Regions from separate parts of the Homo sapiens genome. Here region 1 is linked to region 2. Evidence: fine-mapped expression QTL. Tissue or cell type: monocytes. Region 2 holds a variant in brackets; the other region holds the start of a gene. All regions are shown on one strand. Distances are between the middles of the regions.

Region 1 (2,686 bases), 86 kb before region 2:
GGACTCTGAGGTTACAAGTCCCCTGGTCTATCACAGGACCATACACATAAGAAATAAAAAAAAATCGGCTGGGCGTGGTGGCTCACGCCTGTAATCCCAACACTTTGGGAGACTGAGGCGGCTGGATCACCTGAGGTCAGGAGTTTGAGACCAGCCTGGCCAACATGGCGAAACCCCGTGTCTACTAACAATAAAAAATTAGCCGGGCGAGGTGGTGCGTGCCTGTAATACCAGTTCCTCAGGAGGTTGAGGTACTAGAATCGCTTGAACCCGGGAGGCGGAGATGGCAGTGAGCCAAGATTGCCCCACTGCACTCTAGCCTGGGTGACAAAGCAAGACTCCGTCTCAAAAAAAAAAAAAAAAGACTCCAATCAAAAAGCAAATAAGTAAATAAACAAACATAACGTTTATAATAAGTAATTGTGTTACAAAGAAATATAGTTATGTCCCCTAAACCAAGGTCTCACAGAAAAGGAAGCCTGTGCACAGACTGGGTCAACTGTGTCTTCTCTACTGTCCCTACCTCAAAGTTGGCTTCTTCCTTGTTGCCTAGAAAATCGTCGCCCTGACTGGGTATGATTGTTCTTTGATCAGTATATGCATATATATGTATTTTTTCATTCTTTCCTGGCTGATTATTGCGTGGGTGGTTGTTTGGCGCCTCCTAGCGGCCGGCTAGCAGTACAGGCCTCCTCCAGAGGCCGCTTGGGCTGACGGCACGGCTTGTGGCCCACAGGGGCGGCCACCTTTCTAGAGTTCTCTTGTCCTCTGGAGCTCCAGTGGCAGCTGCCGAGGGAGGGACAGCCCCCGCTGTGAGCTGAGCAGAGCTCGGGAGTCCTGCAGACTTCAGCAGAACAGTCCCGATGGTGCCAGAGCTCTGGCGCGTCCCTTGTGAGTCATAGCTCTGGCGTGTAGGGCTGTGGAGGGGAGGCTGTTACCGTGCTCCCGGCATGAGCTTAGTGTGGGGCTGCCCGGGCTGGTCCCCAGCTCACCGCAGCTGCGGAGGCCCGACCCTCGGAACCCACCAGGCATGATGCAGGGGGCCGGGGACACCCCCCAGGCCCGGTTGCGGGCCCATGTGTGTCCTGGCCGTTTGAGGCTCTGGCCGATTTCTTTTCCCAAGTCCCCATGGAGAATCAGGGACCGTCCTGTGCCATCTTCCGAGAGCCTGGAAGGGTCCGCCCGTGGGCTTTCCGAGCGCCGAAGGGGCCACATGCTGCTCTGAGGGTGCCGCAGGTTCGTGGGGCTCCCTTGCTTGGTGTCCACCCCCTCTGGTTTCCTCCTCTTCCCACCCTGCGGGTGGCTCGTCGCCCTGGCTGGGACGCCGCTGTGGGAGCGTGGTGGGATGGCTGAGGCGCGGGCGTCAGAGGGTGTGGCCCGGCAGCCCCCGTTTCAGGGGTGGCTGTGTGGTCTGGAAGTGGCGGTCCAGGTCCTGGGCCTCTCCCACTCAGCAGCGGGGAGGAGGGGTCGGCGGGGAGTAGGGGCCGGTCGCCCCCCCTTGAGCTCTTCCCCGTCTTAGTGGACCAGCAGACAGTGTGGGAGAGCGCTGGGAAGGAAGGTTGGCGGAGTTATACTCCAGACGGACGGGCTCAGGCCCCGCGCGCCACACTCGGCCACACTTGGCGCGTAGTGTGGACCCGGTGGGCCTCTGCCCTCGCCACCGGCTGGCTTCTCTGTCCAGCCGCTGGGTCGACCAGATGTCAGCCCCAAGGTTAGGGTTTGGCCTCCAGCTTGAGATGTTTAAGACGGACTAGATAGCTCTCGCCCGCGGCAGTACCGCTTAGGTCCAGCAGAGGGTGCGATTACGGCTCACGCGCCCTCCACCTGCCCGGACTCACCCAGGTCATCCTCCCTTTTCTTTTTTCTTTTCTTTTCTCTCTTCTCTTCTCTTCTCTTCTCTTCTCTTCTCTTCTCTTCTCTTCTCTTCTCTTCTCTTCTCTTCTCTTCTCTTTCTCTTTCTGTCTGTTTTTCTTTCTTTGAGTTTTCGCTCTTGTTGCCCAGGCTGGGGTGCAATGGGGCAATCTCGGCTTACTGCAACCTCCACCTCCCGAGTTCAAGCGATTCTCCCGCCTCAGCCTCCTGAGTAGCTGGGATTACAGGCGTGCGCCACCACACCCAGCTAATTTTGTATTTGTAGTAGAGATGGGGTCTCCATGTTGGTCAGGCTGGTCTGGAACTCCCGACCTCAGGTGATTCGTCCACCTTGGCCTCCCAAAGCACTGGGATTACAGGTGTGAGCCACCATGCCCGGCCCCATCCTCCTGTTTCTGCCTCCAGAGTAGCTGAGGCTCGGGATCTTTCTGGGTTTTTTTTTCTTTTTTTCTAGCCCCACTTTGAGTTTGTTTCCACGGTACATTGAGTTACTATTGTTTTGTTTTGTTTTGTTTTCTCTCTTAAGCACCTTCCTGCACACTGAAGTTGCTGTTTTAAATTTCTTCTTTCATACGTGTGTGTGTGTGTGTGTGTGTGTGTATGTTTTTTTAAATGAGGTCTTCTTAGTCACCCAGGCTGAAGTGCAGGTGTGTGATCACAGCTCACTGCAGCCTGGACCTCCTTGGGCTCAGGGGATCCTCCGTCTTAGTTCTCCCAGTAGCTGGTACTACAGTCACGTACCACCACACTGGCTCTTTATTTTGCATTTTTTACTTTTTATTTTTGTAGAAATGAGGTTCTGCCATGTTTCTCA
Region 2 (2,686 bases):
AGAGGCCTCCAGGCCAGGGGACCATCACTGGGTCACTGTGCAGACAGGACGCCCAGTGTGGGGAAAAGCAAGAGAGATCAGATTGTTACTGTGTCTGTGTAGAAAGTAGACAGACATAGGAGACTCCATTTTGTTTTGTACTAAGACAAATTCTTCTGCCTTGAGATGCTGTTAATCTATAATCTTACCCCCAACCCTGTGCTCTCTGGAACATGTGCTGTGTCAAACTCAGGGTTAAATGGATTAAGGGTTGTGCAAGATGTGCTTTGTTAAACAGATGCTTGAAGGCAGCACGCTCCTTAAGAGTCATCACCACTCCCTAATCTCAAGTACTCAGGGACACAAAAACTGCGGAAGGCCGCAGGGACCTCTGCCTAGGAAAGCCAGGTATTGTCCAAGGTTTCTCCCCATGTGATAGTCTGAAATATGGCCTCGTGGGAAGGGAAAGACCTGACCGCCCCCCAGCCCGACACCCATGAAGGGTCTGTGCTGAGGAGGATTAGTATAAGAGGAAGGCATGCCTCTTGCAGTTGAGACAAGAGGAAGGCATCTGTCTCCTCCCTGTCCCTGGGCAATGGAATGTCTCGGTATAAAACCTGATTGTACGTTCCATCGACTGAGATAGGAAAAAACCACCTTAGGGCTGGAGGTGGGACATGTGGGCAGCAATACTGCTTTGTAAAGCATTGAGATGTTTATGTGTATGCACATCTAAAAGCACAGCACTTGATTCTTTACCTTGTCTATGATGCAAAGACCTTTGTTCATGTGTTTGTCTGCTGACCCTCTCCCCACTATTGTCTTGTGACCCTGACACATCCCCCTCTTGGAGAAACACCCATGAATGATCAATAACTACTAAGGGAACTCAGAGGCTGGTGGAATCCTCCATATGCTGAACGCTGGTTCCCTGGGTCCCCTTATTTCTTTCTCTATACTTTGTCTCTGTGTCTTTCTCTTTTCCAAGTCTCTCCTTCCACCTAACGAGAAACACCCACAGGTGTGGAGGGGCAACCCACACCTTCAGCCCAGGGTCCTGCTGTCAGCGCAGCCACCATGCTATGGCTGAAGAGGACTGAGGCTGAGTTGGCCAAGGAGAACTCGGGGCGCAGACTGTGGAGCTGACTGACGGGAGACCCGAGTCCCACCACAGCCACTTGCCACCAGTTCCAATCAACTCCTTCCCTTTTCTCAGGATGTCGGACCCGGCACTCTCACCATTTCTAGGCTTCCAGGGGGTCCTGGCATCTTAGCTGTGGATCTCCCAATACCTGCAGGTCACAAAGTCACGGAGACTGGGCCTCTGAAGACTAGACGTAGA[A/G]CTCCAGCTGCAGCCGGAGACAAAGGCCCCCATATTCCGGAAGCTGTCTTGCCCGCTCCAGCTGCGTGGCTGATTGGAGGGTTTCCAGCCCAGTGTTGCTGATTGGATAACGCTTAAATCCCCGCCTCCTCACATCGTGATTGACAGAAGATGTGACCAAACGCTAGGCTGAATGAAGAAAGAGTGACTGCCTAAGCTGCCGCCCGCTCAGAAAGGGCTTCGTCCCTGAGCTGAGCCAGGCCCACCCTAGAGGGTGTTTGCATGTAATCTTGTGTATAAGGTTATATGCATTTATAAATATTATACTGTATGGCTATTCACAAATGAAAAGAATATAATAATAATGATTTTGAAATTTCAGGTTTTATAACCTTCCTGGCTTTGAGAAGGCAGCATGAGATTTTTTGTCTTTGTTTTTGTTTTTTGAGACGGAGTCGCTCTGTTGACCAGGCTGGAGTGCAGTGACGCGATCTCGGCTGACTGAAAGCTCCGCCTCCCGAGTTCACGCCATTCTCCTGCTTCAGTCCCCTAAGTAGCTGGGACTACAGGCGCCTGCCACCATGCCTGGCTAATTTTTTGTATTTTTCGTAGAGACACGTTTCACCGTGTTAGCCAGGATGGCTCGATCTCCTGACCTCGTGATACGCCCACCTCGGCCTCCCAAAGTGTTGAGATTACAAGCGTGAGACACTGCATCCGTCTGTTGTAACAATTTAATTAAAGCAATATATCCAAAATATTATTTTAATATGTGAGCAATGTATAATTATGAATGAGATATATATTTATATATAACATAATTATGTATCTATATATTGCATTATGCTATGTATTTTTATCCATATTATATATAGATATTTTTATCTATATGTTGTATATTTTTATATTTATGGAACTAAATCTTTGAAACTAACTCTGCATTTTACCTTTCTTGCAAATTGCAGCTCAGACCAGCCACATTCCAGGCTCCCAGGAGTCACACATGGTCAATACCTGTCACATTGAAGTGCAGCTCTGTTGTCAGGTCTGTGAAAGGCCTGAATATCCCTTTTCTTCCTGTTAGGAATAACGCTCAAAATCATAAGGAAATTGAACACTCGAACAAAGGATTCCTAGCAAAGCAATTTTAGTTCTGCACAGAGGGGTGCGTTCTTGTCCAGTCACCATGAGAGCACACCTGAACAAAGGGGCACAAGAGCCTTTATTCCTGACACAAGTCCTGCCCCTGTACCCTTTCCCCATTGGCCAGGGTCGGGTCGTACAATCTGAACTAATCCTGGTTGGCTAAACATTTGATTTTTTTAGATAAGGTGGGCATGCAAAAGAATGCAGAGAGGAAGGGGAAGGGGTGTCTGCATTGAGCTA

Alleles and levels. Positions count from the first base shown, and alleles are read on the strand shown. Sizes are in standard deviations (SD) of each study's normalised expression.
As copies of A replace G in region 2, the expression in monocytes of the gene that starts at base 1,420 in region 1 goes up (large effect, 0.91 SD a copy in BLUEPRINT).

Evidence for each region. PIP is the estimated chance that this variant, and not a neighbour inherited with it, causes the effect.
Region 1: it holds the start of LINC00664, and the variant in region 2 is fine-mapped to the expression of LINC00664 in monocytes (BLUEPRINT, PIP 0.95).

Annotation. Positions count from the first base shown.
Region 1 is chr19:21,482,296-21,484,981 of GRCh38, forward strand. LINC00664 (long intergenic non-protein coding RNA 664) reads left to right here and starts at 1,420. Exons shown (of 11, transcript NR_037194.1): 1 at 1,420-1,711.
Region 2 is chr19:21,567,886-21,570,571 of GRCh38, forward strand. It overlaps LOC124904670 (a long non-coding RNA gene), which reads right to left and starts at 1,371. Exons shown (of 2, transcript XR_007067182.1): 1 at 1-1,371. LOC101929007 (a long non-coding RNA gene) reads right to left here. Exons shown (of 4, transcript XR_007067176.1): 4 at 2,017-2,686. The variant A/G (reference allele first, on the strand shown) is at 1,322.